7 linked regions of the Homo sapiens genome follow. The protein of the gene in region 4 interacts with the protein of the main gene of each other region in a pairwise test. Each region holds a gene or a part of one and is shown on either strand. Other genes may lie near its edges. The genes, in order: SNRPB2, VBP1, alpha-crystallin A2 chain, GABPB1, MAGEB18, GIPC1 and STIP1.

Region 1 (3,500 bases), on a different chromosome or scaffold from region 4:
GTTTAAAAGAAATTTTCCATCTAGTTTTCTGCCAGAAAAGTTGTTCTGTGGGGACTCTGCCAAACCAGCCCTAGTGTTCTGTGGGCCTATTCTATCTGTAAAACAGGATTAGTCTAGAATGGCGATTTTCTTTATTTTTCACCAGCTCCCTCAAATTGCATCCCTAGGTGCTCCCTCTGTGACTGTGGGGTGAGGGTAGGTTTGGAGAGGAAAGGGCATTTGGCCTCCAGTGGGCTCTGGAGCCACAGTTCTATGTCAAGCTGAGCAGTTTTGCTTTTGTTTGTTTTATATGTTGTTTGTTGAATACCTCTGGATTAGAATAGCTGATCTTGAGCCAGATCCTCAGGCACTGAGGAGATTTGAACAGTTCAGGATTCCAAAGCCCGCTGGTGGAGCCCACTCATTTGTTCCTTTAACACTTCAATGCAGTTTTCTCTATTCTTTGATTAAATGGAGAGAAGCCGTGGTACAGATATTTCAAAGTCCTGTGTTTCTCACATGAAAATATATGTTTTTTTAATCTAATAAACACACTTGAATCTAACTTTGTCTAAATTATGAATTATAGCCCACAGTTTACTTCCATTTGGCACTCAGTATATTCTGACAGATTTTCTTAGGGATATGTTTAAAATTAGCTTGTAGTGTATTTGCGTAATGAAATTTGAAATATTAATGACTAGTGTAAACATCCTTCAGCATGAGAAGTAACCTGTTTTCAAATAATTAAAACAGCGAATACAGTATGCAAAAACAGATTCGGATATAATATCAAAAATGCGTGGAACTTTTGCTGACAAAGAAAAGAAAAAAGAAAAGAAAAAAGCCAAAACTGTGGAACAGACTGCAACAACCACAAACAAAAAGCCTGGCCAGGTAAGAAAGACCAAGAAAGTTCCTGTTTGTATTGGTGTTAAAAACTTGATAGATGCTTGTCTTACAGGTAAGGAATGATCTTAGGCTTGTCTGTATATGTGCATAAATGTGTGTTTAAAAGGTGGTTTTAAGAAGCTAGAATGGTTGACTTATAAAATTCAGTATTAAGAAACAAAATATAAACCTTAACATGGAGATTTATATTAAGCAGTTTTATATTTGCATGGCATTTAATTCGATCATTGTTTAAAATATGTTAATACCTTTTGGTTTATTTCTCAAGTTTTGCTGCCTATAAATAATACTGTAGTTATTATCTTTAATCATGAGTACTTCACTCAAAGTATCTTTCTGGCTGGGCGCAGTGGCTCTTGCCTGTAATTCCAGCACTTTGGGAGGCCGAGGCAGGAGGATCACGAAGTCAGGAGATCGAGACCATCCTGGCTAACACGGTGAAACCCCGTCTCTACTAAAAATACAAAAAAAATTTAGCTGGGCTTGGTGGTGGGTGCCTGTAGTCCCAGCTACTCTGGGGGCTGAGGCAGGAGAATAGCATGAACCTGGGAGGTGGAGCTTGCAGTGAGCCGAGATTGTGCCACTGAACTCCAGCCTGGGCAACAGAGTGAGACTCTGTCTCAAAAAAAAAAAAAGAAAAAAAAAAACCCAAAAAACAAACAAAAAAAACAGTGTCTTTCTTTGAACAATTCAGTAATGCAAAATATAATTTGAAATACCAGATAAAAGTGAAATGAACTGCTTGGCGCCATGGTGGCTCATGCCTATAATCCCAGCACTTTGGGAGGCTGAGGTGGGTGGATCACCTGAGGTCAGGAGTTCAAGACCAGCCTGGCCAACATGGTGATACCCCGTCTCTACTAAAAATACAAAAAATTACCTGGCCGTGGTGGTGGATGCCTGTAATCCCAGCTACTCAGGAGGCTTGAAGCAGGAGAATTGGTTGAACCTGGGAGGCAGAGGTTGCATTGAGGCAAGATTATGCCATTGCACTCCAGCCTGGGTGACAAGAGCAAGACTCCATCTCAAAAAAAAAAAAAAAAAAAAGTGAAATTCACCAAAAAGTAATTACTTCTGGATTGAAAGTGATTAAAAGTCAGTTTTATTAAATGACTTATGTCCAGTTGTTTTTAAAAGTAAGACTAGGCCTTGGTTTTCTCTTATATATTTCTCCATAATTTTAAAGCTAAGAGGTTAAATTTTATAATATACTATTTAAAGTTTAGGGCTGGTCTTAACAAAAATAACCGACAAATTAAGAACATGAGTGTTTGAGTCAGTGTTAAGATATAAATTCTTAAAGTAAAATTAAATGGAGTAAGAAGGATATCTCTTGGAATTAATGTTATTTTTAATGCAGTAATTATAAATATAAATACCTGCTGCGTTTTTGGAGGGATTGGATATTTAAACTCTCCCTATTTATTTTGCTTAGGGAACTCCAAATTCAGCTAATACCCAAGGAAATTCAACACCAAATCCTCAGGTAATTTTTTTTCCATGTCGTGCTTACCTTAAAATAAGATTGTAAAAATTACAGCAGTGGTATAAAACAATTTCCATGTCTCCAAAAACAAAATGATTTCATCTACAAGACACAGTGCGTTAAATTGTCTGCCACTGCAATGTAAGAACTCAACTCCTGAAGAACATTTTAATTCTTTTTTAGAGAGAGAAAACGACACCTGACTTTATTTCTTGTTTTCCATAATGAATCAATGACAGAATCAAAATGACAGACTTTAAACTCTAAGGGCTGGGAGCAAACATTTTGGTTTCCTCTACAGTACCTAAAGCTTTACACAGTTGCATGGGTAAGGGTAACTGGCAGGGTCAGGGGCTCTCTTCCATTCCAGTTGGTTGAAACACTACAGTGTTACACTCTTTGGGCACATAGTTTTATAGTTAACCTTTGCTCTCACTTCCTGAACACAAATAAATTCCAGCCTTTTTTTTTTAAGCCTCCTTGTACAAATGTTTTAGAAACTCCGTATTAAATCTCCCCATGACATACCTCAAAGAGAAGGCCTCAGTAATGTGCTGATGGTTTCATACTTTTTTTTTTCCAGATGGCGGGGTCTGGCAAGATCCTTAAATCCATAGAATTCTCTGTACCACTGAGGTTTTTCTCCTCTTGTTTTAAGTTACTTGGGTTTTTTATCTCCTCAGCATTTATAGTCCAGTTCACAAATGCCAGCACTTAATCCTCTAAGCCTTGAGTTGTTCACTAATTATTTTTTATACTTGCTCTTTTCTCTTTTATGACAGTAGCAGGAAGACAGAGCTCTTTTCTTATATAGAAGACCCTTTCTTTAGTTCCCCATAACCTCTGGGTGGGATATCAAATGAGTAATATCTAATAAACTAAGTGTTTGTTACTGCTTGTTTGTATGTAACTAGATGCTGTGTATATCTCATTTATTTGCCAAAAATAAGTAAATTAAAAGTCCCTAAGCAGTGGTTCTCGGTGGTAATCTTTCTAGTTCCAATTTTTTTTTTTTTTTTTAGTATGCTGGGAAGTAGTAACAGTACAGAGGAATTGAGTATCTGAGTGATACTGAGTGTGGTAACCAGCTACGGAGGGGTGACATTGCTGGCCATCTCTAATT
Region 2 (3,500 bases), on a different chromosome or scaffold from region 4:
AATTATAAATGGATCACTGATTTAAACACAAGAAATTTAAAAAAACAATGATGGACATGATACAACTGATCCGACTTAATGGATAAGTTATATGATAGCTACTAGCAAAATGCTAGTAAGTGACTCCCAAATGCAATCAACCTCACTGACAAGAACATAAGAGAAAAACAGTATGCTAAAAACATTCAGTCAATTAAAGAGAGAAAACAATGATACCGTTTTTGTCACTGGGGTTTAGCTCTTTATGGTAATTAGATGCATGTGTTTTGCATGGAGATATATGCAAAACAGTTCTAGGGTCTCTGTCAAATGTAATTTCTAGCAAAACAGACTAAGGATATAAAAACGAAGCTCTGGTTCTTTCGAGGTAAATTTACTAAATATTATTAGAGACCAAAATGTAAACAAAATATAAACACAACAATGAAAATGAACTTATTGCGTCACATAAAAGAAGTCACTCCATGTGTGCAGCAGGTTGGCAGGGCAAATTTACTACACCCTGTGCTACTGACCTGGCAAGAAATGTGTTAAATGAGCCTGCTGCTTAAGAAAAAAACATAGTGTCATCATTTGATAATACAGTCCAGTGAATAATCTAGAAACACCTAGCATTCATTTTTTCACTACAATTCAATCTGGATGCCATAGATTGCTCAAGTTTGCTTATTTTTGCATGATATGTTCATATAGGTAAACAGAAAGATGTTATACATTTGTAAAATATGTGATACACACACAACATAAGGAGTATGTTCAGATCAAGATTTTTTGTCATGTAAATGACTTTTAAGATGCATTCTGTATATATAAATATTATATGTAATATGCTATAAAGCATATTAATGAATCAATCAGATGCAGCCCTAGCTAACTTAGGAACCAGACCACCAATGACACAGCACATGCCCAAGCAATACACTCCTCCCTACCCTGCTTCACCTGAAGAGAAAGTAGCTTGGCTGGGCACAGTGATTCACGCCTGTAATCCCAGCACTTTGGGAGGCCGAAGCGGGTGGATCACCTGAGGCCAGGAGTTCGAGACCGGCCTGGCCAGCATGGTGAAACTCAGTCTCTACTAAAAAAAAATACAAAAAAATTAGCTGGGCGTGGTGGTGCATGCTTGTAATCCCAGCTACTTGGGAAGTTGAGGCGGGAGGATCCCTTGAATCCAGGAGGTGGAGGTTGCAGTGAGCCGAGGTAGCGCCACTGCTACCCACCAGGAGTGACTTAAATTACCCCCACCTCCACGTACATTACTGGCCAAAGTAGCTGATATCCCTGAGGGAATCTAAGCTGACAGGGAAAAGACATTATAATTTGATCATTATAATAAATAAAGACAATAAATTCAACAACCTCTACCATATGAAACAAAATTAACAAATACCAAAAGATAAAACTATACATTAAATACTTAAAGATACCACAAAGAGAAAAGAAAGGATATTGGTAATATGAAGAGGAACCAACCAGAACTACCAGCTATAAAAATCTTAACAGCTGAAACAAAGAACTCATGGCTATCCATCTAATTGCCAAAAGATAAATGACAAAGACAGAAAAAAGGGAAATAATATAAATAAATGGAAGGCAGAATTAGAAGTGTCAACATCTGTAAACAGGAATCCCAGAAAGAAAGAGGAAAAAAAATTAACAGACGATAGAAAAAGTGATAATCACAAAATTTCCAATTAAAGAAAGATAAAAGATCTCAGATTCAAGTGTCGAAAAAGAGATTAACACATGAAATACTAAGGAACTTTTACACAGCTTGAAGGGTAAAGTTAAATGACAGGCTGCAAGATTTACAACACATACAAAGAAAAAGGCTAGCCTCACCCTCACCCTCGCCCTCGCCCTCTTTGCATGGTCTCCCTCTGATGCCGAGCCGAGGCTGGACTGTACTGCCGCCATCTCGACTCACTGCAACCTCCCTGACTGATTCTCCTGCCTCAGCCTGCCGAGTGCCTGGGATTGCAGGCACGCGCCACCACGCCTGACTGGTTTTCGTATTTTTTTGGTGGAGACAGGGTTTCGCTGTGTTGGCCGGGCTGGTCTCCAGCTCCTGACCGCGAGTGATCTGCCAGCCTCGGCCTCCCGAGGTGCCGGGATTGCAGACGGAGTCTCGCTCACTCAGTGCTCAATGGTGCCCAGGCTGGAGTGCAGTGGCGTGATCTCGGCTCGCTACAACCTCCACCTCCCAGCCGCCTGCCTTGGCCTCCCAAAGTGCCGAGATTGCAGCCTCTGCCCGGCCGCCACCCCATCTGGGAAGTGAGGAGCGTCTCTGCCTGGCCGCCCATCGTCTGGGATGTGAGGAGCCCCTCTGCCCGGCCGCCCACTCTGGGAAGTGAGGAGCGCCTCTTCCAGGCCGTCATCCCGTCTAGGAAGTGAGGAGCGTCTCTGCCCGGCCGCCCATCCTCTGAGATGTGGGGAGCGCCTCTGCCCAGCCACCCCGTCTGAGATGTGAAGAGCACCTCTGCCCCGCCGCCACCCCGTCTGGGAGGTGAGGAGCGTCTCTGACCAGCCACCCCGTCTGAGAGGTGAGGAGCCCCTCCGCCCGGCAGCCGCCCCATCTGAGAAGTGAGGAGCCCCTCCGCCTGGCAGCCGCCCCGTCCGGCAGGTGGGGGGCAGCCCCCGCCCGGCCAGCCGCCCCGTCCGGGAGGTGGGGGGGTGCCTCTGCCCGGCCGCCCCGTCTGGGAAGTGAGGAGCCCCTCTGCCCGGCCGCCACCCCGTCTGGGAGGTGTACCCAACAGCTCGTTGAGAACGGGCCATGATGACGATGGAGGTTTTGTCGAATAGAGAAGGGGGAAATGTGGGGAAAGGAAGGAGAGATCAGATTGTTGCTGTGTCTGTGTGGAAAGAGGTGGACATGGGAGACTCCATTTTGTTCTGTACTAGGAAAAATTCTTCTGCCTTGGGATGCTGTTAATCTATAACCTTACCCCCAACCCCGTGCTCTCTGAAACATGTGCTGTGTCCACTCAGGGTTAAATGGATTAAGGGCGGTGCAAGATGTGCTTTGTTAAACACATGCTTGAAGGCAGCATGCTCGTTAAGAGTCATCACCACTCCCTAATCTCAAGTACCCAGGGACACAAACACTGCGGAAGGCGGCAGGGCCCTCTGCCTAGGAAAACCAGAGACCTTTGTTCACATGTTTACCTGCTGACCTTCCCTCCACTATTGTCCTATGACCCTGCCAAATCCCCCTCTCCGAGAAACACCCAAGAATGATCAATACTAAAAAAATTAAAAAAAGAAAGAAATAGGCTGAACTCACTTATGAACAGAAATTCAAAAATCCTAAATAAAATAATAGCAAATTGAAAAAAAAAAAAAACAAAAAGGCTAGCATGTAAACTACATAGAGCCATCTGCTGCAAAACAACTAGATCATGACACAAAAATAGTTTTGTTGCATAGCTGACATCATAGGAGTGAGAGAAATTCCAGAAAAATAAAAAGAGAAAAGTAGCCCTCCAACTACTTGGGAGGCT
Region 3 (3,393 bases), on a different chromosome or scaffold from region 4:
GGAGGCTGAGGCAGGAGAATCGTTTGAACCCGGGAGGCAGAAGTTGCAGTGAGCTGAGATTGTGCCACTGCACTCCAGCCTGGGCGACAGAGCGAGACTCCATCTCAAAAATAAATAAATAAAATAAATAAGTAAATCAAAATGAATGCAAAAAATTTGTGGTGGACAAACTGTCAACATTTTACATAAAGCCAGGATGAGGACGACGGCCTTCTCCTTTTGCTTCAAGCTCCAGCATGGCTCTGCCCAGCACTGACCGTGCTCCTGGCCTGGCTCGACCCTCCCCAGGGCCAAGCTCCATGCTGGTTTCCATCCCAAAGGACTCTTCTTCCCCCTCCCTGTGCCCCGGGAATAGGCAGCCAGCACAGTGGGGCCGCCCGCTGCCTCACCCAGACCCTGCCACTGCTTGGATGTTGACCCCCAGACTGGAAAGGTGGCTTTAAACCCCCTTCCCTTCTTCCAAGCCAAGTGACCTGGGTGTGCGGCTTAACCTTCTAAGCTCCCATTTCCTGGTCTATGAAGCGGGAATGATGCTGGGACCTGCTTCACAGGGTGGCTCTGAGGACCCACAGGCAGAGAGGTCTGGTGTAGGCTTTCGGGGGAAGCACCCATCACTCTCCCAGCGTTTCCTATCTGCACCTTAATTTGGCACCCCAGGGAATCGCTCCTCTGGAATTGTAACCTTGCAGGGCAAAAGCTATCATTTCAAGATTTTTTGGGATCCTGTGTCCCCGGACAGTGCTGTAAATGTAGGAGGAAGGGTGCTGCTCATGGGTGCTGCTCATGATGGAGGTGCCCCGTGGAGCACGCCTCGGAGCCCCCCCTTTCATCCCTGATCCCATCTGGGATGTGTCAGGTCTGATCCGCATACACTGGGGCATCTGACATTTCATGGCCTTCTGAGCCCATGGGCTGGAGATGAATTTGCAAAGCCCGGGAGTGTCCTGGGTGTGTGTTCACTCCACACGCACGAATCTGTTAGAGGCTGAGTAGGAACTAGGAGGCCAAAGAGAACCAGGCAACTTCCCACAGCCTGGACCGTACACTAGAAAAGCTAGCCTGGGAGAGGGGGCATGGCCTCTTCCCAGGCTGGCAGGGGGGATGTGGGGGAGGACCATGCTCCCCAGGGCCAGTTTACCAAAATATCAAAATACCAAAATATCAAAAGACTTAAAACTAGGAGTGAGCCAGGTGCAGTGGCTCACGCCTGTAATCCTACACTTTGAGAGGCCAAGGCAGGTGGGTCACCTGAGGTCAAGAGTTTGAGACCAGCCTGGCCAACACGGTGAAACCCTGTCTCTACTAAAAATACAAAAATAATAATAATAATAATAATAATAATAATTAGCCAGGTGTGGTGGCAGGCACCTGCAGTCTCAGCTACTCAGGAGGCTGAGGTGGGAGAATTGTTTGAACCTGGGAGGCAGAGGTTGCAGTGAGCTGAGATCGCGCCACTATATGATCTGGGCGCCACTCTGGGTGACACAGCAAGACTCCATCTCAAAAACAAACAAACAAAACCGGGAGTGCCTGGACACTTAGTGAGAACTGGACAGGGGCCATGGGTCGAGGAGCAAAATAATCACCAGGACTTGTGGATAACAGGATCATGTGGGTGGTGGGTCCGCATGGGTGACAGGGACGTGGGGACATGTCGCCACCCTGACAGGAGCAGCCCAACTCAACAGCCACGGCAGGTCATGCCACGGAGGCTCGAGGCGTTACGTGGGGATGTTACATCAAGGCATTACATCATTACGAGATGTAACGCTCGAGGCGTTACATCGAGGGGATGATGGCCATGGGGCTGGGCGTCCAGGGTGGGCCGCAGAGGGAAGCTCACCACGTGGTGCTCTCATCTGCCCACAGCCCAGCCCGTCTTCCTGTTGGAGGCATGTGACCCCTGGAGGACAAGCATGAAACGCCATAGGGCTCCCCCAGGTGCTGGAATTATGGCACCTTGCAGCTTCTTCTCCACGAGTTTTAACAAGCATGCGTACTTTTGTAAGTGGTGAGTGTAACGGAGGTTCACAGATGCACTCCGCTTTGGAAACCAGTGCACTCTTGCCCAGGCCCGGTGAGACTCTGACGACGATGTGTCTAACCTCTGTGTCTAACGGGGGTGTGGGCTCTCCCTCCTCTGGCGACCATGAGGACCACCCCGGCAGGACAAGGTGTGCAGAGAACTAGCATGGTCCCTGGCACGTAGCCCCTGCCCAGTGACTGGCAGATGAGAAGCTCCATTGTCGCCCCAGGCGAGTATGGGGCACAGGCGCCTCCTTGGGTTGTCTGCCCTCCCGGGAGCCCCAGGGTGCCCAGGCGGGCCTCAGCTGAGTCCAGGCCTCGGGGACAGTCCGTGCAGCCCCTCCTGGGGCTGGGGGCGGGCACTTGTCCCAGCCACGTTTCTGCTGACTGAGCAGCCTTCTTCATGAGCTCACGCCTTTCCAGAGAAATCCCTTAATGCCTCCATTCTGCTGGTGGCATATATAGGGAGGGCTCGGCCTTGGCTCCACACTGCGCTGCCCAGAGGCCCCGCTGACTCCTGCCAGCCTCCAGGTCCCCGTGGTACCAAAGCTGAACATGGATGTGACCATCCAGCACCCCTGGTTCAAGCGCACCCTGGGGCCCTTCTACCCCAGCCGGCTGTTCGACCAGTTTTTCGGCGAGGGCCTTTTTGAGTATGACCTGCTGCCCTTCCTGTCGTCCACCATCAGCCCCTACTACCGCCAGTCCCTCTTCCGCACCGTGCTGGACTCCGGCATCTCTGAGGTAAGACGTGGCCCGTGGTGCTGGCCTCTCCTCGCTGCTCAGAGGGTGGTGGCCTCGGTGGGTGGAGAGCGATGGACTCTGGTCTTGCTCCGTCAGGCAGGTGGCCTCGTCCCACTTCATCCCCTTGCAGAGGCTGGGCGAGAGCCTGTGTCCCCACTGCAGCCACGTGGTAGAGCTTCCCCTGGCACTGGGGAGAGGGTGGACAAGGGAGCAGCCTGAATCCACCTTTGCTTTCCTCCATCAGCTCATGACCCATGTGTGCTTTGTAAGGCACCAGCCACATACTGGAAACCCCAAGAGCAGCCCATCCAGGCATGCGTGGTGGCGAATGCCAGCTCCCGGGTTCCTCTGGTCTCCTGAGTCCCGGAGACCTGGGAGCAGGTGGGGGTCATAGTCCTGAAAGCCAGAGAGCAGGGCGTTCCTAGCACCTCCTCCAATGAGCTCGGCCTGCCCACGGCTAGCAAAGCTCTTGGCAAGTTTACTTAGGTGCCCTGCCAAGGCTAAAAGGACAGGCAATGGACGCCCCCCCCCCCCACCCAACCACAGGCCTCCTCTCTGAGCCACGGGTGAGCGGTGCAGGTTCTGCTGTTCTGGAGGGCCTGAGTCCCACCCAGCACCTCATAA
Region 4 (3,500 bases):
ACTAATATTTTGAATTTTGTGACAAGCATTACTTAGTTTTCTTTGTATCACTTATCCCTAAAAAATATACTTTGGTTTTGCCTGTTTTGAGTTTTATTTAAACAGAATTATACTGCATGTATTTCTCTGTGACTTGCCTTCTTTTGCTTGACACTGTATTCATGAGATTCACCATGTTAATAACTGTAAGTATAGCTTACTAATTTTCTGTGTTCTATAATATTCCATTGAATGAGTAAACCACAATTAATTTAACCAATCTACTGATGAACATTTAGATTGTTTCCAGTTTTTGTGTTATTATGAATAATGTTGCTGCTAAATACAGTAGTCTTGTATATGTTTCAGGCACATGAACAAGTCTTCTCTCGGGAATAGTCTTAGAAGCCCAACTGCTACATCATATACTATGCACATCTCCAAATTTACTATGTGCTGCCAAACTGTCTTCCATAACGATTATACCAATTCCATACTTCCACCAAAAATATTTGAGAGTTCCCACCATCTCCTCACCAAGCCTTGGTACTGCTCAACTGTTTTTGCTAATCTGGTGGATATATAATAGTATTTCATGATTTTACTTTGCATTTGCCCCAATTTTAATGTAGTTGAGTATCTTTTCATGTTTATTGATCAAACTTTCTCCTTGGTAAAGCACCATATCCAGTCAGTCTTCTATTGCCTTGTCTTTTTATTGCTAACCCATGGGAATTCCTTATGTATTATGGATACTAATCCTTCTTAAGATCTTTCTGTCTTTGGGAGGCCGAGGCGGGCTGATCACGGGGTCAGGAGTTCAAGACCAGCTGGCCAACATATTGAAACCCCATCTCTACTAAAAATACAAAACATTAGCTGGGCTTGGTGGTGGGTGCCTGTAATCTCAGCTACTTGGGAGGCTGAGGCAGGAGAATCACTTGAACCCGGCAGGCGGAGGTTGCAGTGAGCCGAGACTGAACCATTGCACTCCAGCCCAGGCAACAGTGTGAGACTCCATCTCAAAAAAAAAAAAAAAGATCTTTTTGTCTTGAGGTACTACAGCATCACTATGATATATCTAGATATAGATTAGTTTTTAAATTGATCCTGCTGGAGATTTGTTAGGCTACTCAAATCTGTGGGCTGCCATCTTTCATCAGTTCTGGAAAATTCTCAGCAATTACCTCTTTGAATTATTTCATCCCTATTTTTGCTCTTTTTGTGGATCTATGATCAGATGTTAGACTTTCTCACATGATCCTTCATGATTCCTAACATCTCTTTTACATTTTCTATCTATTTTTATCTGTGACATAGTCTGGATCATTTTTTTTTTCATACCTTTCAGTTTACTAATTTTCTCTTTAGCTGTTTCTAATCTGTTACTAAAATTTTATCTCAAGTCCTTATAGGTCTGCTTCTGTTGACAGTTGTTTTAGCAGATTACTGTCCAAATTGGCATGTGTTCATGTGTTTAGTTATTTCTGACTGCTCACTTTCCTTTGAATTTCATTTGTGGATATGAAGCCTGGGATGAAGGCAGGTTCCTCCAGAGCAGATATTCATTTGCTTCTGTCAAGAGCCTGGGGTAATCCCTAGTCCAAAGATCACTTCAAATTCATTTCTCAGTTTACAGTTTTTTAGACTACACAAGTATTTATGAGTTCAGGCTGCAAGTGTGTAAAAAGGATGCCTTGTGATTCCAAATTCTCACCATCAGATTGTTTTCCTCTCTCCATTTGATGTCTTGGTTCACATCAGCTTATTATCTTTGCAGCATCACGGCAACAGGGGCAAGGGCAGGAGCAGACAGGAGGAGGGACAGGGTATTCCTGCTTTATCCCTACACTGAAGGTGCAGCTCTTTGGGATTCCAGAATTATGAGATAAGATCTCCTATCAGACTTCTCTCCATGAACACTCTCAGGTCTTTAGCTTTAGTACCCCAAGCCAGTGAGGTGGAAAAACCACCAGACAAGTGTGAGTTCACCTAATGTTCTTTAGGGTAAAATTTCTCTGGGTTCTTGCCTTCACTTAGTTTTTCAGGTTGATAATCTCTTTCTTTCTAATTCAGCAGTGTACTTAAGAAGACTTTCTTTAAAATATTTCATCAAAAAGTCTTTATTCTTTAAAGATTTATTTATTCTTTAAAGAAACATTTATGGATAAAATGATATGGTCCCTGGAATTTGCTTTAAAATAATACAGAACAAAAAATAATACAGTAGACAGAGTTATAGAGGAAACAATATTCATCATGATTTGATAATTTTTGAAGTTGGGTAAAGGGTATTACAGGGATATCGTTGATATATATTTGAAATTTTCTATAATAAAAAATTTTGTTTTTTCATGAAAAATGTAAAAAGAGAAAGAAAGGCAAAAACGGCAAAATCAAAAATCTGGAATTTTTAGTTGTTACCAATGGGCAGGTTAATTCAGATTCCTAGCATTCCATATCCACAAGACAATACTTTTTTATTTGCCCCCAGAATTAAAGAGTTATTTTTTTTTGCCTTCCCCACAACTACCTTCTTTCCATAGTTGTCAAGATCTCATTCCCATTCCTTTCTTCCTCTTTCGTCATGTCTGCAACAGTTTTACAAGTAATAATTGAAACATAAACTTGTTTTTCTTTTAGGAGTGACTATTAACACTAACTCCAATCTTTATCAGTATCTTTCTGAATTATAAATTCTACCTGTGCTATTTATAAGGCCTTTAAATTAAATCCCAAGCAGATACATTTTTATATTCATGCCACATTAATGCACTCCACAGTTTGAAAGAAAAACTCTTTGTGGATGAAATATTTGGATAAGGTTGTCCAATATCAAAGAAAATAATATAAACCACTTCTTTTAGGACAGTTATAATTCTAAAATAATAAACACATTTGCAAAAATAATAACTTTTTACCACTTATAAACACAATACTGACTACATTTTTCTCTGCAAAAACTCAAAAATGAGAAGGAAAAAGAACACACAATATTAAAATCATTCTTTACCCAGTCTGTAGTAAAGGGAGCTCCATTTGCCATCAAAATACGAACTTCATCATCTTGACCTGCTCGTGCCGCTTCTAAAAGCTTCTTTCCCAAATCTACCAGGGACATCTAAACAAAACATAGATGAACTGAACATCAAAATCTCCATTTATACACTATGACATGACATTTTCCCTTCCTGTCTTTATTAATAAGTCAGTTCTCAATTATCCCTTCAAAAGAGTGTGCTATGGTTAATTTAAAATTACAGATCATACAAAAGCAATTTATATTTGGATTTTAGAATCCATTTTCCTTTCTCATTAAGTTTTTACTTAGAATAAAAGTAGTTTAAATTCTCCAAATACATCTGGTAAAAGATAGAAGAGGTAAGTAGCAGAGAAAAGCTGGCCTAAATTTTTATTTATTTATTTTTTTCTTGACACAGAGTCTCGGCCTGTCACCCAGGCTGGAGTGCAGTGGCACGATGTTGGCTCACTGCAACCTCCGCCTCCTGGGTTCATGTGAT
Region 5 (3,929 bases), on a different chromosome or scaffold from region 4:
CACACCATCTGAGTGCCTGGCCTCTGCTCTCCAGTCCCAAAGCTTCATCTAGCCCACCACCCAGCTTAAATTAAAAGTATATCCCACTGAGAGACTCAAAGTTTCCAAAAGTCTAAAAGGGCCTTTCTTCAGAGAATTTGCACCTTACCATTTTCAGCCAGATACACTTCAGCACTTTTCCCAAACCCCTCTCTAACTCCTTACCTCCTTACTCCCTCTTGTTACTTGTCCTTTAGGTCTTAGAAGTATTTCACCATCTTCCATACATTATTACTGTTCATTAATTGTAAAAGTCTAAGCAGAGGTGGGTGTTTTGTATCCTGGTTTTCCCATTTCTAACAAAATTACTTTCAAAAATCAGATGTTGGATTAATATTGGAGGAATGAATGAGCCGGTAAGCATAGATGCTGGTTCATAAACATTTTATTTCTTCCTACCTTCTTCAGTAAGCTAAGCCAATCCAGGTATGACTTTTATTTTTATATAACAGACTAAAATGGAAAAAGAAAACCAAGAACTGAAAAGTTTACTTTTTCTCACCTATGTTTTGATCTCCAAAATTTTACTGCTAAATCATCTCACATTTTTTAAGGAAATACCTATTCCAATACTGTGTTTCCTTGTTCTGGCTCATTAAATATGAAAGAAGGTTTCCCAATTTGTTTTACAGAACAATAAAACTCCTACTCTTAAATAGCAATACGTGTGTAACCAAAGTCATTAATAAATATAGATTCTGAAGTTATCTAAAACTTCTATTATAAGCAACAACATTTGAAATATAACACCAAAAAAAAAAGAAAGAAAAAGATACAACTCCGAGTTACTATAGACTATTAACACAAAATGATATATGCTGTGTTCCCTCCAGACGCACTCTGGCCATTCACTACTTAGAATGTTGACTGCTCTTCTCTTCCACAAAGAAAACAATCTTCAGACTTGAACATTTGAAATGTAACCTAGGGGAAACAAAAAGATGGAAAAGTAAAACTCGAGTTATCAATATACAATAGGAATGCAAAGATGATATACACTTATTTCTTCCAGCCCCACCATGGCCCTCCACTATTAGAATGTTGACAGACCTTTTCGACCAAAAAGTGAAGAACAAGCCTCAGATTTCACTTAGCATGGGAGAAGCTGCTAGACGTGGTTCTGGAACGTGCATTTGCCATGGCAGCAGTATGAGCCCTGGCTGCAGCTCTGGCTTGGGTTCTCTGTTCCTCATCCCTCAAAGCCTCTTCATAGCAGGATGGGAAGGCACTAGGGACGGTATCATGTATCTTGGCTACAAACTCCAGGACTTTCATCTTGCTAGTTTCAGCGTGAGCTCTTGGACCCCACAGGAATTCATAGCGTGGAGGATCACTGTTGGGCACTTGCTGGTACTCCAGGTACTTTAGCTGCACCAAATCTTTGGTCATGACCTTCCTGGGATCCCCATAGAGGAAGTGCTTCCTATCGGCATATACACCCATCATATTCATAATTTCCCAGACTGCCTCTTCTGGGGCACGGTTGCCATTCAGAAAGATCACACCCAGTGCAATCATCAGGAGGCCAGTCTTGGGAATTTTTTCTTCATCACTGGTTGTTTCATCATAGGTGAGGTCTAATTTGCTGAAAAAGGCATAGTAGTGCCTGATGGGATCCACTTCCTTCAAATCAACACCAAGTGCCAGCTCCATGTGCTCAGAGGCTCTCTTGAGGATCTCATTGAAGTGACACTTATCCTTCCTGATAACAAACTTTATCATATCTCCCTTTGTAATTGGCTCTTTCGTTTCATACTTCTGAAGCAAGAAATGCACCAGCGACACTACTTTCTTGTTTAAAGGATCTTCTTTCCAGCCCTCAGCTTCCCTTGAGGAACCTAGACTTTTCTCATCTTGGCTGCTGGCACCTTCATTTGAACTGCATGAAACAGGTGCAATAGCATTGGTGGTGGATGGGGCTCCCTGAAGCGCTTCAGGGATGCTAGGTGTCTCAGCAGCAGGCAAATTCTGGGGTCTGTCACCAAAGAGAAGATAGGCAGGGGAGGGTGACTCTCCTTCTGCCACAGTGGCCTGCGTAGCTCCCAGATCCTGATTCTCACAACGAGCCTGGTGGCGTTTCTCACGGGCACGGAGCTTACTCTTCTGACCTCGAGGCATAATTACTCTTGTCAGGGACTACAGACAATAGTGCAGGCAGTTGAATTGATGAAGAGGGCACCCTAGAAGACGGAGGATGAGATAGTGTTCACAGCCTTGGTAGGGAGATTCTACCTTGGTCTAAGAATGGCCACCTCTCCTGGTTCTCTTGAGGGTATTGCTTTAGGAACCCATAAGGCAGGAGCGGGGTGGGACTGTTCTGTGGGGGGTTGTCACATCAGTTCTAACTCAGGATATTAATTTTACTCCTGACTACATCAGTTCTAACTTAGGATATTAATTTTACTTTAGTCTTTTGAGTCCTCCGTCTGTTGACTTGAGGCTGCCTCGCTTTAGACCATGGCTTCCCATCCCACAGATTCCCAACAGGAAGTAAGGGTGTTAGGCCTAACAGCTGCGCTTTGGGACACAGAGAGTTGAAAGTGGGAGCAGGACAGAGCAGAGAAGGATGGGTCTCTGTGAGGCAGCCTCTGTTCTGGGAAGAGTGTGTCTTGAAGGTCATAACAAATGATACTCACTTTGACACCTGCCGGATCCTGAGATTTATTTCTCTGGCCGCATGTTTCAGACCAAGGTTTCGCCCGTAACAGCTTGATGATGTGGAAGATAGGTCAAGAGAAACATGTCCGGCCACGCCCACTTTGCTCTCCCAGCTTAACGGCAAATGGTTCTGCGTTCGGGGGAGGGGCAGTTCTTAAAGAAATACATATATTTCTTTCATTGACTTTGCAGGCACTGGGACTTCTCTCTTTGCTAAGCTGAATCAGTCAGCCTCAGAAAAAGGATCATTTCCCTGAGTCCAGAGTAGGAAGTAAGGTGGAACCTGAGCCCAGCAGCCACGCCTGGGGACTCCCAAGATTGACAGTAGGGGCGGGGCTCTGTGGGGGTCCCTCTTCTTGGGTAGGTAATGCCCTCAGTCCTCACTCAGTGTCTTATCTTGACTTTTTGTAGGTGCTGGGCCACTTCTCTGCTGACTTGAGGCCATCAAATAAGGCACTAAATCTGTAAATAAAGATAATTGACATCTGTACAATATTATGTTCACCATATATAAACATATTGTATTGCTGTACTTAGGCATCCACCTAAGTCTATCAACACATTTTTATATTTGCTTTGATAGAGTGTGTATGTTTTTGTGAATGTTCTTTTTAGGTATATTTTGAATGTTGCTGCTCTTTTGAATGGTATATTTTTCATTCCATTTTTTTTTATTTTTAAAGCCCTCTCAAATTTATTGAAATAGATTTTCAGGATGGTACATTAGGAGAAAAATGAGGATGACAGAAACATCAAAGGATCTTTCATTCAGGCACTAAAAGTAATCCAGAAAAGAACTTCTCAGAGAAAATCTTAAGTAGCTAGGATCTTTCCTTATTTGGAACCATTACTTTCAATTTAATGCTTTGTATATTATGTTTGTTTTGTTTCTACTACACTGGCTGAGTCAGCTTTGAATTTCTGAAAAGCTTTACTTATGCCCCTCGCGTAAGATCCTAATCCAGTTCACAGTGAATTTCATGACTTAAAGTCTTGAGGTAGCACAAATGTTTTTACAAGATTCCTTGAGGCTTCTTTTTCTTTAACCTTTATTTTAAGTACAGGAGTATATGTGTAGGTTTGTTATATAGGTAAACTCGTGTCATGGGGGTTTGTTGTACAGATTATTTTATCAGCCTTGTATTAAGTCTAGCACCTATTAGTTATTTTTCCTGACCCTCTCCTTCCTCCCACCCTCCACCTTCTAAAAGGCCCCAGTATCCATTGTTCCG
Region 6 (3,500 bases), on a different chromosome or scaffold from region 4:
AGGCTTCATGGAGGAGTGGGCCTGGAGTAGGTATTGGCAGGCAGAGAGGGTTGGGATATTCCTGGGCAGGGCAGGGCAGAGGAGGAGACACCCATAGTAATGACAACAGCGTCCTTAAATGGAGTCTGAGGCAGAGTGTAGATGGGATACGTGGGTAATCTCTTTGGATTTCCACAACCACCTTGAGAGTGACAGGAATTCCACCCATTTTTCAGATGAAGAAACTGAGGCCCTGTGATGTGAAGTGACTTGCCCCCCAGCCACACAGCTGGTAAGTGGCAGGGGTGGGATTTGAACCCAGGCCACGAAGCCTCTTATGGCCGTGGCAGGCAGATTCATTACTCACTCACTTTCCTCACTGCTGTTAATGCCTCCTCACGGGTGGGGACACGGAAGCTGGCATGAACCAGGGCAGTGGGGTGGGCAGAGAGAGAGAGTAAGGAGGCTGGGAATTGGTGGTCAGGATGTAGGGATCTTGGGAAAAGGAGGAAGCTTGAATCTTGGTACAGATGGCAGTAGCAAGGCCGGGTGCAGTGGCTCACGCCTATAATCCCAGCACTTTGGGAGGCCGAGGCAGGTGGATCACGAGGTCAGGGGATCGAGACCATCCTGGCTAACATGATGAAACAGCGTCTCTACTAAAAATACAAACAATTAGCTGGGCATGGTGGCGGGCACCTGTAGTCCCAGCTACTCGGGAGGCTGAGGCAGGAGAATGGCGTGAACCCGGGAAGCAGAGCTTGCAGTGAGCTGAGATCGTGCCACTGCACTCCAGCCTGGGCAACAGAGCGAGACTCCGTCTCAAAAAAAAAAACAAAAGATGGCAGTAGCAGTAATTGTCACCAATATTTATGCAACCCTTATTGTGTGCCAGGACTGTTCCAAGCACATGCATGATTTCCTTGGAGCTCAGAGAGGTTAAGACCCTTGCCCAAAGTCACACAGCTATTAAGAGATGAAGCCAGGTTCCAGATTCATGTTTTTAGTTTCCTGCCTCCCAGTGCGTAGAGCTGGCGGAATTGGAGGGATGATGAGGGGTCTTTTCTTTTTTCTTTTTTTTGAGATGGAGCCTCACTCTGTCACCCAGGCTGGAGTGCAGTGGCACGATCTTGGCTCACTGCAAACTCCACCTCCCGGGTTCATGCCATTCTCCTGCCTCAGCCTTCCGAGTAGCTGGGACTGCAGGCGCCCGCCACCACGCCTGGCTAATTTTGAAAATATATGGCTGGGCGTGGTGGCTCATGCCCACCTCGGCCTCCCGGAGTGTTAGGATTACAGGCGAGAGCCACCACACCCGGCCGACACTGATTTTTCTTTCCAGCGAGGTCAGAGCCCGGGGAGGGGTCAGAGCAGAGACAAATGCGACATGACTTATGTTTTACAGGACCATTCTGGCTGCTGTCTGGACAAGAAGTCGTAGGGGGTGAGGGTGGAAGCTGGGAAACCCACAGGAGGCAACCACACTAGTTTAGGTAAGTGATCATGGAGATGGACCAGGTGAGATGAGAGGGTGTGTTAGGGGACAGACGAATGGATGCATGAACAAATGGATACATGAGACTAGGTGCAGGCTGGGTGCAGTGGCTCACACCTCTAATCCCAGCACTCTGGGAGGCCAAGGTGGGCGAATCACCTGAGGTCAGGAGTTCCAGACCAGCCTGGTCAACATGGAGAAACCCCATCTCTACTAAAAATACAAAAATTAGCCAGGTGTGGTGGCACGCACCTGTAATCCCAGCTACTCAGGAGGCTGAGGCAGGAGAATCGCTTGAACCTGGGAGGTGGAGGTTGCAGTGAGCCGAGATCGCGCCATTGCACTCCAGCCTGGGTGACAGAGTGAGAGTTCATCTCAAAAAAAAAAAAGATTGGATGCGGCCAAGCTGAATCCAGCATGGCCCCCTGGAAGAGACCATTGGATAGGAGGCACCAGGAAGTCCCTTTTACATAAGAAAATATAGGCTGAGCGCAGTGGCTCACACCAGCCTTCTTTGGCTCACACCATGTTGGCCAGGCTGGTCTCAAACTCCTGACCTCAGGTGATCCACCCGCCTCGGCCTCCCAAAGTGTTGGGATTACAGGCGGGAGCCACCGTCCCTGCACCCGGCCTAACTAATGTATTTTCTTTCTTTCTTTCTTTCTTTTTTTTTTTTTTTGAGATGGAGTCTCGCTCTGTCACCCAGGCTAGAGTGCAGTGGCATGATCTCGGCTCACTGCAAGCTCCGCCTCCCGAGTTCACGCCATTCTCCTGCCTCAGCCTCCCGAGTAGCTGGGACTACAGGTGTGTGCCACCACGCCCAGCTAATTTTTTTTGTATTTTTAGTAGAGACGGGGTTTCACTGTGTTAGCCAGGATGGTCTCGATCTCCTGACCTCGTGATCCACCCGCCTTGGACTCCCAAAGTGCTGGGATTACAGGCGTGAGCCACCACACCTGGCCTTTTTTTTCTTTTTGAGACAGAATTTCGCTCTTATTGCCCAGGCTGGAGTGCAATGGCACTGTCTCAGCTCACCTCAACCTCTGCCTCCCAGGTTCAAGCGATTCTCCTGCCTCAGCCTCCCTAGTAGCTGGGATTACAGGCATGTGCCACTACACCCAGCTAATTTTGTATTTTTAGTAGAGATGGGGTTTCTCCATGTTGGTCAGGCCAGTCTCGAACTCTCGACCTCAGGTGATCCGCCTGCCTCTGCCTCCCAAAGTGCTGGGATTACAGGCGTGAACCACCGTTCCTGGCCTAACTAATGTATTTTCTTTTTTTTCTTTTTGAGACTGAGTCTCTCTCTGTTGCCCAGGCTGGAGTGCAATGGCACGGTCTTGATTCACCGCAACCTCCACCTCCCAGGTTCAAGCAATTCTCCTGCCTCAGCCTCCCCAGTAGCTGGGATTACAGGTGCCCACCACCGTGCCTGGCCTAATTTTTTGTAATTTTAGTAGAGACGGGGTTTCACCATGTTGGCCAGGCTGGTCTTGAACTGCTGACCTCGTGATCCGCCCGCCTCGGCCTCCCAAAGTGCAGGGATTACAGGTGTGAGCCACTGCACCTGGCCAACTACTGTAAGTTCTGGAGAACTAATCCGGGCTCTTGAGAGCAAGCACTCATTGCTTCCAGAGCTACTTCAAGCCATTCAGGAGAGATCTGGCCCCATAACACAGACACCTCCCACTAGGCCCCACCTCCCAACACCGCACCACCACTTTGGGGATCAAATTTTAGCATGAGTTTCTTTTTTTTTTTTTTTCTCCTTGCCATGTTTCACATTTAATAAGATTCTGTCACTTTAATACATAAAACCCTTTGAAATCAATGTCAACCAGGAAAATTCATGTTAGAAAAAATTGGAATGAGAGCTAATATTGTATATTCAGAACATCTGAAAAAACATTTTTGACTATTACAAAAGTTTATTTAACAAAAAGTCTAATATGAAAATGTACATGACCTAATTTTTACATCATAGTAAAACAGGCCCTATGGAGAGAGGACATGGGTTTCTCTGCTGAAC
Region 7 (3,500 bases), on a different chromosome or scaffold from region 4:
GCCCACCTTGGCCTCCAAAAGTGCTGGGATTATAGGCATGAGCCACCGTGCCTGGCCTGAAGCTGATTTTTTAACATGCTGGCCATTCTAATGAATAATAGCCATAAGCTTAGCGCATACTAAAGCACTCAAAATAGTTTTAGGTGGGCACAGTGGCTCGTGACTGTAATCCTAGCTGAAGCAGGAGCATCGCTTGAGGCCAGAAGTTCAAGACCAACCTGGGAAACACAGCAAGACTCCGTCTCTAAAAAAACCATAATAATCATGGTCAATCAAGGTCAACAGATGTCCCCATTCAACATAAAGATTTCTAGTTGTTTATAGATAGGTGACAGTGAGGAGAGAAAAAAACAAGACCTGCTTCTTATTCTCTGGAAGATCTTCTTCCATTGGCTCTGGCTTGGTCTCCTTTTTGGGAGGGGGTGGTGGTGGAGGTGTTGCAATCTCTTCCTCCTCATCCATACTGCCCAGATCGACCCCAAGGAGGACGCTGAGAGTGGTCATGATCCGGGGATCTTGTAGTTTCCTAGTATTGATTTAAAAAAATAAAGAAAAATTGTAATTACTCCTCCCCACAATTAGTCTTTTAACTCCCACTTACTACTAAAGTCAGATTCTTGTGTTTAGAAGCTCCTCACCCATCAAAAGATGGCTAGATTTTGCACCACTCATGAGTTACAATTGAGAAATACTCAAACCGTCAAAACACTATCTAAAATAGAGTCAACAAAAACAAATAAAATGAAGTCACAGATAGCGGAGCACGGTGGCTCACACCTGTAATCCCAGCACTTTGGGAGGCCGAGGCGGGCAGACCACTTGAGGTCAGGAGTTTGAGACCAGCCTAGCCAACATGGTGAAACCCACCGCTACTACTAAACATACAAAAATTAGCTGGGCGTGGTGGCGTACACCTGTAATCCCAGCTACTCAGGAGGCTGAGGCAGGAGAATCGCTTGAACCCAGGAGGTGGAAGTTGCAGCGAACTGAGATCACACCACTGCACTCCAGCCTAGGGGACAGAGCGAGACTCCATCTTGAAAAAATAAAATAAAATAAAATAAAATAAAATGAAGTCACAGAGGTCAAGTTTATTCCTCAAGGTTAGCAGATACACAGAGGAATGAGTTGTTTTAGGTATACTTCCGTAGCTGATCTCAGGAGCCAGAGGATTGATAGAGATGAATACCAGTACAAGATTTAGACACATCTTTACACATGAACTTCAACCCTGTTTCCACTCTGATATACCAACAGAGAAAGTAGGGCCTAAGTAGATGGAAAGGATGGGGTTGACGCTAGATCAGAGTTCTAGAAGAGCAGGAGAGAGGTGTATACAGATGACAAAGAACATTCTAGATTACTGTGAAATATGCTCCCCTGACCCTTTCTATAATTACAAATAAACGACCACCACCTACTGCTCTGCAGAGAATAAGCAAAGGCAAAAACTCTGCAGTTTAGACCAGGGAACCCTCTGCTGTGAGGTTACAGGAAGAAAGCATAACATTCCCCGATTTCCAGAACCTCAGTGAGCGGCGTCCACTTACGTGCCCAGGTCAGAAGGCTTGTTTCGTAGCTGCTCTATCAGCTCCCGGTAGGTAGGATCACTGAGTAGTGTCCTTGTCCTGGGATCACTCTCCAACTTCTGATACAGATTAGGCATGTTGAAAGGGTTCATGAATTTTCTCTCTGTCCAAATAAAGGAAAGCACATCACTATGAAATGAGTTCACTAGAATTACTGTGTCCCATACCCTACCAGACTGACATTTCTCAGGGGTGAAGACTCAAAATTAATCACATTAATAATAAGAAAGAAAACTGTGCGTGGTACCTACCTGCCAACCTGGCCTCCATATTCTGTAAACCCTCTTTCAGTTGAGGGTTATTTGCCTCGTGTTTTAAGCCCTCCTCATAGGTTCGCTTGGCTTCTTCAAAGCGGTTTAAGAACTCTAGAGCTGCTGCTTTTCGTGAATAGCCCTTAAACCACCAAAGACAGACACAAAATAGAGAACACCCAGAGGTAAATCTAGAAGACGAACTCAAAAAAGAACAATTCTACTTTTATGGGGGAAAAATGAGTATTCACATGAAGGCCAAAGAGAAAAAAAGGAGAGGAGTAGGCTACGAGGCCAAGGCTGCTACTGTAAGGATCCATCCAAATAGCAGAGGCACATCCGCCCCGCCTTGTTCACCTCTGATCGACTGTGGTCAGTTTCTTTGGCAACACTTTTTCCCTTATTTTTTTGGTAAAGACAGGGACTCCTTATGTTACCCAGGCTGGTCCCAAACCTTTGGGCTCCAGTAATCCTCCTGCCTCAACCTCCCAAAGTGCTGGGATTATAGGCGTGAGCCACTGTACCGGGCCTCTTCCTTTTTTTTTGAGACAGGGTCTTGCCGTGTCACCTGGGCTGGATGCAGTGGCACGATTTCAGCTCACTGCAACCTCCGCTTGCCAGGCTCAGGTGATCCTCCTGCCTTAGTCTCCTGAGTAGATGGGACTACAAGCACATGCCACCATGCCTGGCTAAATTTTTTTGCATTTTTAGTACAGACAGGGTTTCACCATGTTGGCCAGGCTGGTCTTGAACTCCTGACCTCAAGTGATCCGCCCACCTCAGCCTCCCAAAGTGTTGGGATCACAGGCGTGCGTCACCGCGCCCAGCCCTGGCCTCTTCCTTCTTAGTACCAAAAATAAAGCCTGTATTACAACTAATGGCTACCTTAGATTTGATGAAAAATGCCATTTCTGAGGAGGATACTCAAACAGGGAGGTGGGTAGGTAACTATCAGTGTATCAGGACAGGTAAACCTCAGGCCACCAAAAGGCATTTCTGGAAGGGTCTGAAGGGCCTCTCTCCCTCCACTGCCCACAGCTGACCTTGCCCCAGTCAGGCTTTAGGTCGACAGTCTTGCAGCCATCCTCATAAGCCTTCTGGTAGTCTCCTTTCTTGGCATAGGCAGCAGAACGGTTGCTGTACAGCACGTGGTTGTGGGGATCCAGCTTAATAGCTTCGGAGTAGCACTGTAAGGCATCATCGATGTTACCCACGCTCAGGGCCTTGTTGCCTTTCTCCTTCAGCTCATTGACCTGAGGGGAAAGGAACACACAGCTTCTCTATGATGTGCCCATTTAATCCCAAGCTTTAAAGACAACACTCATTCTTTCATGTAGTTACCAACAAATAAATAGGTGACTTTACAGATCAGAAGAGAGAAAACCGGTTCATTTATTTAATTTCTCACACCTTCCCTAAGGAGCCAGCAAAGAAAAAATAAGCAGGGGCAAAGAGCCCAGGCTGCACTCCACGCTGGCCCCCATGTGACGAACGAGGGCTCTGCCACTCTTCCGGTCTCCACATGGAGCTCACGAAGCCACTCCAGAATGTGCCACATGCTCCTTCCATGGAAAAGTCAATTCATTTGCCACAGATTTCCAAAGCATCCAAATGACAAACAGAGCACAGCCCTAGTCACCCCTCACAGGAAGAAGGTGGG

What was found.
Region 1: the proteins of GABPB1 (region 4) and SNRPB2 interact in binary tests that used the Homo sapiens proteins (3 or more experiments, as listed by UniProt).
Region 2: the proteins of GABPB1 (region 4) and VBP1 interact in binary tests that used the Homo sapiens proteins (3 or more experiments, as listed by UniProt).
Region 3: the proteins of GABPB1 (region 4) and alpha-crystallin A2 chain interact in binary tests that used the Homo sapiens proteins (3 or more experiments, as listed by UniProt).
Region 5: the proteins of GABPB1 (region 4) and MAGEB18 interact in binary tests that used the Homo sapiens proteins (3 or more experiments, as listed by UniProt).
Region 6: the proteins of GABPB1 (region 4) and GIPC1 interact in binary tests that used the Homo sapiens proteins (3 or more experiments, as listed by UniProt).
Region 7: the proteins of GABPB1 (region 4) and STIP1 interact in binary tests that used the Homo sapiens proteins (3 or more experiments, as listed by UniProt).

What each region holds. Positions count from the first base shown.
Region 1 is NC_000020.11:16,736,526-16,740,025, forward strand, and holds part of SNRPB2 (U2 small nuclear ribonucleoprotein B''), read left to right. Parts: intron 1-735; coding exon 736-876; intron 877-2,326; coding exon 2,327-2,377; intron 2,378-3,500. UniProt on the Homo sapiens protein: Involved in pre-mRNA splicing as component of the spliceosome. Associated with sn-RNP U2, where it contributes to the binding of stem loop IV of U2 snRNA.
Region 2 is NC_000023.11:155,222,960-155,226,459, reverse strand, and holds part of VBP1 (prefoldin subunit 3), read right to left. Parts: intron 1-3,500. UniProt on the Homo sapiens protein: Binds specifically to cytosolic chaperonin (c-CPN) and transfers target proteins to it. Binds to nascent polypeptide chain and promotes folding in an environment in which there are many competing pathways for nonnative proteins.
Region 3 is NC_000021.9:6,558,203-6,561,595, forward strand, and holds part of alpha-crystallin A2 chain, read left to right. Parts: intron 1-1,869; 5' UTR 1,870-2,580; coding exon 2,581-2,769; intron 2,770-3,393. UniProt on the Homo sapiens protein: Contributes to the transparency and refractive index of the lens. In its oxidized form (absence of intramolecular disulfide bond), acts as a chaperone, preventing aggregation of various proteins under a wide range of stress conditions.
Region 4 is NC_000015.10:50,306,699-50,310,198, forward strand, and holds part of GABPB1 (GA-binding protein subunit beta-1 isoform beta 2), read right to left. Parts: intron 3,101-3,500; coding exon 2,993-3,100; intron 1-2,992.
Region 5 is NC_000023.11:26,137,214-26,141,142, reverse strand, and holds MAGEB18 (melanoma-associated antigen B18), read right to left. Parts: upstream 2,801-3,929; 5' UTR 2,676-2,800; intron 2,220-2,675; 5' UTR 2,158-2,219; coding exon 1,126-2,157; 3' UTR 1,090-1,125; intron 964-1,089; 3' UTR 407-963; downstream 1-406. UniProt on the Homo sapiens protein: May enhance ubiquitin ligase activity of RING-type zinc finger-containing E3 ubiquitin-protein ligases. Proposed to act through recruitment and/or stabilization of the Ubl-conjugating enzyme (E2) at the E3:substrate complex.
Region 6 is NC_000019.10:14,489,628-14,493,127, reverse strand, and holds part of GIPC1 (PDZ domain-containing protein GIPC1), read left to right. Parts: intron 1-211; exon of another isoform or gene 212-215; 5' UTR 216-271; intron 272-1,384; 5' UTR 1,385-1,472; intron 1,473-3,500. UniProt on the Homo sapiens protein: May be involved in G protein-linked signaling.
Region 7 is NC_000011.10:64,192,671-64,196,170, reverse strand, and holds part of STIP1 (stress-induced-phosphoprotein 1), read right to left. Parts: intron 3,094-3,500; coding exon 2,884-3,093; intron 1,983-2,883; coding exon 1,841-1,982; intron 1,693-1,840; coding exon 1,551-1,692; intron 527-1,550; coding exon 358-526; intron 1-357. UniProt on the Homo sapiens protein: Acts as a co-chaperone for HSP90AA1. Mediates the association of the molecular chaperones HSPA8/HSC70 and HSP90.